Linked DNA regions of Homo sapiens. The protein of the gene in region 1 interacts with the protein of each later gene in a biochemical or structural test. Each region holds a gene or a part of one and is shown in the gene's direction. Other genes may lie near its edges. The genes, in order: CDK1, EZH2 and RB1.

Region 1 (3,600 bases):
TAACACGAAAGATATGATTCAATTGAACAATATTATGGAAAGCATTTGTTATGAGCGCTTTAACTCAGAAAACCTTCAAATGTTTATCATTTGAACATTGTATTATTACTATGAACACTGTCTCCAAAACCATCTCTTCACCAGCTCCATCTAATGCCACTTAACTCTTAATTTGGATTTCTTTGATGTCCTCAAATGTATCCTGTGATTTGGCCTATGAGTTTTGGCAATGGCTGTTCTTTCTACCTGGAGGCCAGTTTCTACTGGCTTCATTTTTTATCTCCTCCTCTAGTCCAAGAGCATTTTGTAGTTCCCTTTGCATCATACCATAGGATCCTTGAGGGCTGGGGTTTTTGTCTTGTTCACAACTGTTTGCCCACTGCCTATCAGTAGTGCCCAACCCACAGGAGATAGCCAAATAGATAATAATAACATCTGTTTTCCTTGTTTGCTCTTCTGAACACTGTTGTTTCTTTTTCTGGCTTGTATTGTCATTTCTACTCCAATGCCTGATTGTTTTGGATTATGTGCTGGATATTGTTTTGGAAAAAGGAACTTGTGGAAATAAATGGAGGCCTAAATGATTCACACAGAATTTTCTTTTGGTTCTGCCAGGTATCTGGTTAAAGTCTAGTATTAAAATACTACTTTAAAAGTTATATTTTTTCCCCTCAACTTTTCATTTTGAACATCTCCAAATCTATATTGAAAGATTTATGCAATGAACTTGTAATATTTTTACCAAGATGTTGGTGTTTTGTCATGTTTACTTTATTATCTGTATGTATGTTAGCATTATTTTTTATTTTTTTCATTGACATTAATTCTGATTTAGAACAGTCTCTGCCTTTTCTCTCACTTGACAGTGAGTCTTGACAACCTAATTCATTTCTTAAATACCTCCAGACTTTACTATTTTAAATATTACAAAAATTGTTCTCTGGTTTCTTCTGAATTACAGAAATCTGAGTGTTGTGATACTAATCTTTGAAATCCTTCCTGTCTTAAGAAAATGTCTTTTTGGATCATAGAGTAGCAGTATCCATGATGGTGGAACCTTGCCTGGCATTTAGTAGGCATTTGATAAATACTTGCTTAATGAAGGTTTTCTGCTTAAGGGCCTCCATAACTTGATCATATCCTACATATTTTTCTTTTGTTTCTTTTTGTTTCCTGGGATAAATCTTCCATTAGACTTAGACTGATCTCCTTCTAGGCTTACCTGTGTTAATGATTTTTGCCTCCTTAGTTATTTATACTTAGTTAAATACCCTAGAGTATTTCTGTCTTTAGAATTCTTAGTTCATTTTGGAGGATATGCCATGTATTTCAAAAATAATTTTGGATGATTAACCAATAGAAAGTTCTGCTTTGTTTAACCCCTCTTCCAGTAGTTCAGTGAGAAGTGATATTATCTCTAAAATTCAACACATTGAGTGTTGGCCACTGGTTAATTGTTAATTCTGAAAATTATTTAGGATTAGATGAGATTGTACACTTGAGGGAGAAGAAAGGATGCTAGAAAAAAAATTAGTTCTGAACTTACCATTAACTGTTTATGTGACTGTATTATGCAAGTGACTAATTTTCCTGAGATCACTTAAACAGTATGCCAGATGATTGTGCTACTGGTTTACCTACTTTTTGTGTTTAATGAGAGCTGAATTTACATCCAAAAAAATGTAGATTTTAAGTATATGAAGGTTGCCTACTTTTAAGGATGGCTGTGAGGATTAAATATAGTCAATTCTCCTTTAATGTAGAGTAATTTTGGTTATCAAAAAGTTATACATTAATCCACAATTTAATCAAAATAGTATAAAATGACTCATGTCAGTTTATAGTTTTAAAATGACACCAGTATTTAAGAAAACATAGACTTTTGTATAGAGGTTCTGTCAAAAAAATTAAGCTTAAGTAGCATCAATTTGCTACTGCTCAAACTGCTTAATTTTTTAACCAAGCAGTTGGTAATTTGTTGGTTGTTAGCCTTTTTTAAAATATTGCTACTTTCAGAGAAACTCATAAAAGCTATAGAAGAGGCCTTCTTCCTAGAACAGTGCACTCTAATCACTTTTGAAGTTAAACCAATGCCATGGAAAGCAAGCTATTCAACAAAATTTTGTGTGTACTTAAGGGGTTCAGGACCTCCCTAAACTCCAACTCGAGTTTAAAAAGACTTATCTAGGGAATTCAGCCACGTATATGACAGATTTTAGCTAGTCTTCTCCCTTATTGCCATTTCATTCCCTGTATCCACCTCCTCCCTCCCTGCTATCCCTTATAATTGATATTGTTGCTCATTACCTGAAGCCCATATATCAAAATCAGTATTTTCATCAACTTGCAAATGGGTGTGAGGCTTTCCTAATATGTAGTACATACAATGTGCTTTATTAGGTTTAATACACAAACACCTGGTCTTTTTTCTCCATTCTTTTGAGAATGAGGACTGTTGACTGTATTTTGAGATACAGATAAAAGTGTTTTGAAAAGCATAAAGCACTCTACAGTATTTTCTGAAAGTGTCATAATGACTTTTATCAGTAATATTTCCTGAGCCCAAATTTTTACACTATATTTTATGCCCACTTCGTTGCAGGGTAGGATATTGACAGAAGGTTAATTTTAATTTGCAAATGATCTATTTTGTTCTGTAAAATATGCTGGAACATTAATGGTAATTTAGATGTATAGAAAACTTGTGATGACTACATGAATTTTATTTTTAAGCCATACAGATTGTAGTTACTCTCAATTTCTTTTTGGAAGCAATGAGGGTATGAGTAAGATACTTCCCATATGGCCACACCAGACATTTCTATCATGTGACCCTTATGGGATTCAATGATCTTGAAATCCTTTAGTTTGACCAGGTGCGGTGGCTCACGCCTGTAATCTCAGCATTTTGGGGCGGCGAGGCAGGTAGATTGCTTGAGCTCACGAGTTCCAGACTGGCCTGGGCAACATGGTGAAACCCCATCTCTACCAAAAAGACAAAAATTAGCCGAGTGTGGTGGCATGTGCCTGTAGTCCCAGCTACTTGGGAGGCTGCCGTGGGAGGATCCCCTGAGCCCAGGAGGAGGAGGTTGTAGTGAGCCTTGATTGACCCACTGCACTCCAACCTGGACAAGAAAACAAGACCCTGCCATAAGGAAAAAAAAAAAGAAAAAAAGATCTTTAGTTTGTGGGGTGTGTCACACAGCATATTATTTACTTTGTTTCAGGTACCTATGGAGTTGTGTATAAGGGTAGACACAAAACTACAGGTCAAGTGGTAGCCATGAAAAAAATCAGACTAGAAAGTGAAGAGGAAGGGGTTCCTAGTACTGCAATTCGGGAAATTTCTCTATTAAAGGAACTTCGTCATCCAAATATAGTCAGGTATGTTGTAATATCTGAATGTAAGCCATTTTCTGCATGCTATTTCAAATATAAATTTCAACTTGGAAATCTTTACATTTGCTCAATTTCTTGGTCTAGCCTTACTGAGTGGACTAGAACCCTATTTTTGGTAGTTGAGAATGCCGCACATATGTAAAAGAGAACAGGCTGTTAAAGCAGGAACAGAGTTGGAGGAGCTGGGTGATGTAGATTAAT
Region 2 (3,834 bases), on another chromosome or scaffold:
AGCTTTGCCTTGCACAAATACATTTAAGTGAATATCTTTATGTTGGCCATTTAAAAATTTTAGGCAAATTTCTCCAAGTCATACTGGAATTTTCCCAGGATACCTTCCTTCTTTTGAGGTAGTGTGCTCAAGGATTCTGAATTTATTTCAGTATTACCCTTTACATGAGCAGTGATTGAGAAAGTTGATCTGCTTTTTAAAAACCAACAAGGACAAATCCTCCAATATAATGTATTCTGTGGTTAATTAGCAATGATTTATGGATTAGCCTTGAAGTCTTTATATCAGTATAGATGACAAATTTTCTGTAAATCATGATAGATTCTATATGAGTAGGTGAAATCTTCGGGGGAGAGCATAAGTGAACAGCAGCAATTCATTAAATTCAGAGAAAGGTTCATGGTCAGATGATACATACTTTACCTTCTGGAGGTCTTCCCTGAATTCCCACTCTTGTGTTCCCACAGGGTTTTATCATATTTTATTGTAGCATGACTCAATTGTATTGTAATCACTTGTTTATGCATCCCTCTCTTCCCTACAGTCAAAGTGCCTCCTGGTAGAGGCTCTGTCTTATTTTTTTCTTTGTATACCTAGTACCTACGTTGGTATTTGCTAGAGAATAGGGGTTTTAAATATAGTTGAATGAATTAAGGAAATATGAAAAATGTAGGGAAATAATTTGACAAAGGAACTTGCAAAGTGAACAGGATATGTTAGTATTCATGTGAGGAACTTTGAAATGTGTTTTTCTCCCTCTTTAATAGGGAATGATTACAAAGAAAAATAGTTGTCAAGGTGAACAAGTTCCAAGTTTTTCCTAGTTATAATCTGTAGTACTAAACATTAGATATCCTTTAGATGCAACTATTACACTCGGACAACTGGAGAGAACTTGATGAATCATCTGGATATTTAGTAATAGTATTTGCTTAATTTGATTTAATGTTGATATTGATGATCTCTTTGCAAAAATATAAGGAAGGGAAAGGGCGAGAGAGGGTAGTAGATCTTTTAACTGAAAAGCTGTTTTGTTATAATTCATGAGTTCTTTATTGGAGTAAATTGAGGTAGGTTTTGGAGCTAAAACTGAAGGATGTAGCGACAGTGTAATTGGATCATTTATTGGGATGCTTTTCATCATTCTTTTAAAATGATTTAAATACAGATTAGCAAATTTAGTGATACCTCAAAAGTTACAGCTGGTAAATTTCTAAGATAGTTGCACCATTCCATATCTTGCCACTGTTCCACTACTTGGTATAAAAATATGACAAATTTGTGTTTAGATTATGTGGTTAGCAGTTTCTTAATAATTGGTCTTGTTTTCCATTAACAATAGCAAGACAGAACAAGATCATAGCTCACTGCATCCTTAAACTCCTGGGCTCAAGGGATCCTCCTGTCTCAGCCTCCTGAGTAACTGGTATTACCAGTGCACACCATTGTGGTGACTTATTTAATTTTTTAATTTTTTGTAGAGATGGGATCCTGCTTTGTTGCCCACGTTGATCTCAAACTCCTGGCTCCAGGCAATCCTCCTGCCTTGGCCTCTTAAAGTACAGGGATGACAGGCTGAGCCATTGTGTTTGACCCAGATACTTTTTTTTTTTGAGACGGAGTCTCGAAAGTGATTCTTGTGCCTCAGCCTCCTGAGTAGCTGGGACTACAAGCGTGCGCCACCACGCTCGGCTAATTTATTTATTTATTATTTATTATTTATTTTTTTGAGATGCAGTGTCACTCTGTCACCTAGACTGGAGTGCAGTGGCACCATCTTGGCTCACTGCAACCTCCACCTCCTGGGTTCAAATGATTCTCCTGCCTCACCTCTCAAGTAGTTGGGATTACAGGCATGCACCACCAGGCCTGGCTAATTTTTGTATTTTTAGTAGTGATGGGATTTCACCATGTTGGCCAGGCTGGTCTCGAACTCCCGACCTCAGGTGATCCACCTGCCCTGGCCTCCCAAAGTACTAGGATTACAGGCGTCAGTCACTGTGCCCAGCCTCCGATAATTTTTATATTTTAGTAGAAACTGGGTTTCACTGTGTTGGCCAGGCTGGTCTGGAACTCCTGACCTCAAGTGATTGACCTGCCTCGTCCTCCCAAAGTGGTGGGATTATAGGTGTGAGCCACCACACCCTGCTGTGTTGTTTTTGTTTTTGTTTTTTGTTTTTGTTTTTGTTTTTTGATATGGAGTCTCACACTTGTTGCCCAGGCTGGAGTGCAGTGGCGTGATCTCGGCTCACTGCAACCTCTGCCTCCTGGGTTCAAGCGATTCTCCTACCTCAGCCTCCCGAGTAGCTGGGATTACGGGAACGCACCACCACACCTGGCTAATTTTTGTATTTTTAGTTGAGATGGGGTTTCACCACGTTGGCCAAGCTAGTCTCGAACTGCTGACCTCAGATGATCCGCCTGCCTCGGCCTCCCAAAGTGCTGGGATTACAGGCGTGAGCTACTGCGCACGCCTGGCCTGGATACTTTTTAAACATTTTTAAATTAAAAATTTTTTTTTGGAGACAGGGTCTTGTTGTCACCCAGGCTGGAGTGCAGATGCGTGATCTCAGTTCACTGCAACCTCTGCCTCCTGGGCTCAAGCGATCCTTCCATCTCAGCCTCCCAAGTAGCTGGGACTACAAGTGCATGCCACCACGCCTGGCTAATTTTTGTATTTTTTGTAGAGACAGGGTTTTGCCATGTTGCCCAGGCTGGTCTTGAACTCCTGAACTCAAGAGATCCACCTACCTCAGCCTCCCAAAGTGCTGGGATTATAGGTGTGACCCACTGCACCCAGCTTTTGTTTTTAATATTTGTAAGAACCACCTTGTGTCTGCCAACAGGCGAATTAACAAAATGTGGTATATAAACCAATGAAAACATAAAAGGAGTGAAATAAAGACGTAAAAGGAGTGAAATTTCAAAATAAAAGTAAAAAGATTTCAAAATAATTCAGACATAAAAGGAGTGAAATTCTGATACATGGATGGAGCTGGAGAATATTATGCTTAGTGAAATAAGCCAGATACAACCTTTTGTACAAAAATACAAAATTGTATGATCTCATTTATATGAGGTAGTTAGAAGAGGCAACTCTATGGAGACAGAAAGTAGAATAGAGGTTACCAGGGCTGTGAGGGGAGAGGTGAATGGGGAGTTTAATGAATACAGAGTTTCTGTTTGGAATGGTGAAAAAATTCTGGAGATGGATAATAGTGATGGTTGAACAATATTTTGAATATATTTAATGCCACAGAATTGTACACTTAAAAATGGTTAAAATGGTAAATTTTACACGATATGTATCTGTATCTATATATATCTCTCTCTATATCTATATATCTTACCAGAATACAAAATTTAATAACACACTCCGAAAACCTTTACAGATGAGGAAACTGAAGAAAACTGTCTACAGGGGAGGAGTTAAGAATTTGCCCAGGATTATTCAGCTGGGAATTTGCATTCGGGATCCAAACTTAGTTCTGTTTCACTACATATTATCTACTCCATATTATCTGTTCTGTGTTATCTGCTGGCTTTCTGGGTGATTAAAGATATGTCAGCTCCGAGAAGAATGAGTTTATTTGAATCATTCAGAAAGTTACATTTAAAAGTAGGTAATTGTAGTTTGATGGAAGGTACAGTGTGAAACCCTAGACAGACTAAAGGTTAACTTTGAGGATTTCTTTCTCAGCCAGAGTGGTAATAGTATGCATTTGAGAGGGGAGGAGAGTAGAGTTCTAAGGATGTGGTCTTTGGAGACAGTTTCTTGGGTTCCAGTCCCTGAGCTACCAATTTGTGTCTGGGGTGTTATCCTCTTGATGTCTT
Region 3 (3,834 bases), on another chromosome or scaffold:
TATAACTCTTAATTGAAGGTATTTTATGAGAATGTATGAGGCTCTTTCTGATGGATGGAAAGCTTAACAAATTTGCTCTTCTCTAGCCTAGTGGCAGAAAATTTAGATAATAGGGTTTTTTAGTTGTACTGTAGTATTTTTTGCTCATTAACATCCAGTGAAATGATATTGTCTGCTTATGTTCAGTAGTTGTGGTTACCTAGTTATTATGGAAGTGTTTCCACATTTTTATGAACAATTTAAAAAGTCATATATTATGGAGCAGAAAATATTAATTCTGATTACACAGTATCCTCGACATTGATTTCTGTTTTTACCTCCTAAAGAACTGCACAGTGAATCCAAAAGAAAGTATACTGAAAAGAGTGAAGGATATAGGATACATCTTTAAAGAGAAATTTGCTAAAGCTGTGGGACAGGGTTGTGTCGAAATTGGATCACAGGTAACTTGAATTCATTGTAATTCGTGGTACTATAGAGTAATAATATTAAAAGCAGCATCTTTCCAGTTCGTATAAATACTCTAACAGTATTTGTCTAGTAGTATAAAATACTGTCAGATACTATATCCCTGCTGCCTGTGTATGCTGCTATTTATGGGTAACTTTATGGAAAACTACCTCCCACCCCATTATAAAAACTATGTAATAAAGGAACACATAGCCATTGTAGAAATTTTGGAAAATACAACTAAGAAAAAAATTGAAATCTTTGATATTAAATTTTTGATTTTGCTTTGACTTCTACATGTATGACTGTTCATGTATGCATATCCTAATGTGAATGGGACTATACATGCCATTTGTCAGTGATATTATTGAGTGATATTATTTCAGGAAATCTAAAGCTAATATAATAGGTAAGAGTATGGGCCATGGAGTGACAGCCCTGGGTTTATATTTGGTTCTACCATTGTTGATCTTGGACATGTCATTTAACTTCTCTGAGATTCAGGTTCTATATTTGCTCTGCTTTGTTGTGTGGCATTAATGAGGATAATATACAAAAATATATTGGAAAACTGGAGTCCACTGTACACATTTATTTCAGTGTAGTGAGGTTATATTTTGATGCCATCAGTGTTTTAAACATTGATATTTAATGGTTCTTTTTGATTCTACAGCCATGCACCACTTAACAGGGATATGTTCTGACAAATGCATCATTAGGCAATTTTGTTGTGTGAACCTGGTAGAGTGTGTCTGTACAAACCTAGATGGTATAGCCGATTGTACATCTAAGCTGTATGATATAGCCTATTCATTCCTAGGCTACAGGCCTCTACAGCATGTGTACTGAATACTGTAGGTAATGGTAACATAATGTGTTACCATTTGTGTATCTAAATATATCCAAACATAGAAAAGGTAAAGATATAGTACAAAAGATAAAAAATGGAACATTTGCACAGAGCACTTACTATGAAAGGAGCTTACAGGATTGAAAGTTGCTCTGAATGAGTCAGTGAGTCGAGTGGCAAGTGAATGTGAAGGCCTACAATATTACCTATGACATGACTGTACACTATCGTAGACTTTATAAATACTACACTTAGGCTAAACTAATTTCATAAACATTTTTTCTTTCTTCAGTAGTAAATTAACCATAGCTCACTGTAACTTTTTTACTTTATAAATCTTCAGTTTGTAAGAAACTTTTGACTCTTATAACACTTAGCTTAAAACACAAACACCTTATACAGCTGTACAAAAATATTTTCTTTCTTTATAATCCTTATTCTGTACACTTTTTTCTATTTAAAAATTTTTTCAATTTCATAAAGATTTTTGCCAAAAACAAAGGCAAACACACACATTAGCCTAGGCCTACACAGGATCAGGATTAACAATACCACTGTCTTCTGCCTCCAAATTCTGTCCCAAGTCTTCAGGGACAATAAAATGCATAGAGCTGTCAACTCCTATGATGATGATGCTATCTTCTGGAATATCTCCTGAAGGAGCTGCCTGAGGGTGTTTTACATTTAACTTTTTTTTTTTTTTACAAGTAGAAGGAGGATGCTCTAAACTAATAAAAAGTATAGTATAATAAATACATAAACCAGTAACATGTTCATTATTAAGTATTATGTACTGTACATAATTGTATGTACTATACTTTTATATGACTGGCAGTGCAATAGGTTTATTTACATCAGCATCATCACAAAGATGTGAGTAATGTAATGCATTGCACTACATTACACTAAACAATAGGAATTTTTCAGCTCCATTATAATCTTATGGGACTACTGTTAGATATGCAGTCAGTTATTGACCAAAAACGTTGTTATGCGGTGCATGATTATATATGAGATTTTTGCTCTTAGTTTGGAAGGAAATAATATGGTGTGTGTTTATATTTCTAAAATTTGGTTATTCTTTCAAATAATGGGAACTAGTTATTTGGCTAAAACTTCTTGCTCATAAGGTCAGTTTGATCTGATTTTTGCCTGTGTCAGTTTTACTAAATTTATGGACAAAGACTGTCCTCTTAATCCTGGACAGCTATCTTGAAAATACATGTCCTAGGTCATGAGAAATGTTATATAAGGTACATAAAGTGCTTAAAATAGTACTGGGCACATAACCTATCTTTAGTATGAATGATATAAACTGAAATGGAGTTAAGGAAATCCAGGTACTGGACCTACCCTCTTGTTAATTTACTTGGGAATGTTAATCACCACTTAATACTTAAGTTGTGAGTTTTAGACAAGCTAGCTTTTGTGTTGTCTTGGCGGCCATATTTGTAAGAAGGGTGAGAAGTATGTTTTAAGAAAAGGCTTTTTAAAAAATTTTAGTAATTGTCAGCTGGGTATAGTGGTACATGCCTATAATCCCAGCCTCTTGGGAGGCCAAAGCAGGAGGATCTCTTGAGCCCAGGAGTGTGAAGGCCAGCCTGGGCAAAACAGTGAGACTCCATCTCAAAAAAAAAAAAAATTTCATAATTGTGATTTTCTAAAATAGCAGGCTCTTATTTTTCTTTTTGTTTGTTTGTAGCGATACAAACTTGGAGTTCGCTTGTATTACCGAGTAATGGAATCCATGCTTAAATCAGTAAGTTAAAAACAATATAAAAAAATTTCAGCCGGGCGCGGTGGCTCACGCCTGCAATCCCAGCACTTTGGGAGGCCGAGGTGGGCAGATCAGGAGGTCAAGGCATCAAGATCATCCTGGCCAAAATGGTGAAACCCTGTCTCTACTAAAAGTACAAAAATTAGCTGGGCGTGGTGGTGTAGACCTGTAGTCCCAGCTACTTGGCAGGCTGAGGCAGGAGAATCCCTTGAACCAGGGAGGTGGAGGTTGCAGTGAGCCAAGATTGTGCCATTTCACCCCAGCCTGGCAACAGAGCAAGACACCATCTAAAAAAAAAAAAAAAAAAAAAAAAAATTCAATGCTGACACAAATAAGGTTTCAATTAAACAACTTCTTTTTTTTTTTTTAAATTATCTGTTTCAGGAAGAAGAACGATTATCCATTCAAAATTTTAGGTAAATTTTTTACTTTTAGTAAAAAATTTTTTTCTTTTTATAGAAGTAAGTATTTTATAATCTTTTTTTTTTTCCTTTAGCAAACTTCTGAATGACAACATTTTTCATATGTCTTTATTGGCGTGCGCTCTTGAGGTTGTAATGGCCACATATAGCAGTAAGTTAAATTTTCATAAATAAACACTTTTGTTCAATTTAAAGTTAAAATGTGGTGTGTTTCTTTGGTCGGGGGAGAGGGATAGTGTGAGGTTAAGGAGAAGGAATGCTTATTTTAGATCACTATATACTGAAGAATGTAATTGGTCATTATAAGCCATTTAAGAGGCTTATTTGAGTTATTT

What was found.
Region 2: of the proteins of CDK1 (region 1) and EZH2, one has a biochemical effect on the other in vitro, tested with the Homo sapiens proteins (5 studies listed by BioGRID).
Region 3: of the proteins of CDK1 (region 1) and RB1, one has a biochemical effect on the other in vitro, tested with the Homo sapiens proteins (8 studies listed by BioGRID).

Annotation. Positions count from the first base shown.
Region 1 is NC_000010.11:60,781,478-60,785,077, forward strand, and holds part of CDK1 (cyclin-dependent kinase 1), read left to right. Parts: intron 1-3,227; coding exon 3,228-3,384; intron 3,385-3,600. UniProt on the Homo sapiens protein: Plays a key role in the control of the eukaryotic cell cycle by modulating the centrosome cycle as well as mitotic onset; promotes G2-M transition via association with multiple interphase cyclins.
Region 2 is NC_000007.14:148,877,585-148,881,418, reverse strand, and holds part of EZH2 (histone-lysine N-methyltransferase EZH2), read left to right. Parts: intron 1-3,834. UniProt on the Homo sapiens protein: Polycomb group (PcG) protein. Catalytic subunit of the PRC2/EED-EZH2 complex, which methylates 'Lys-9' (H3K9me) and 'Lys-27' (H3K27me) of histone H3, leading to transcriptional repression of the affected target gene.
Region 3 is NC_000013.11:48,376,592-48,380,425, forward strand, and holds part of RB1 (retinoblastoma-associated protein), read left to right. Parts: intron 1-326; coding exon 327-443; intron 444-3,002; coding exon 3,003-3,059; intron 3,060-3,243; exon of another isoform or gene 3,244-3,283; intron 3,284-3,461; coding exon 3,462-3,493; intron 3,494-3,573; coding exon 3,574-3,650; intron 3,651-3,834. UniProt on the Homo sapiens protein: Tumor suppressor that is a key regulator of the G1/S transition of the cell cycle. The hypophosphorylated form binds transcription regulators of the E2F family, preventing transcription of E2F-responsive genes.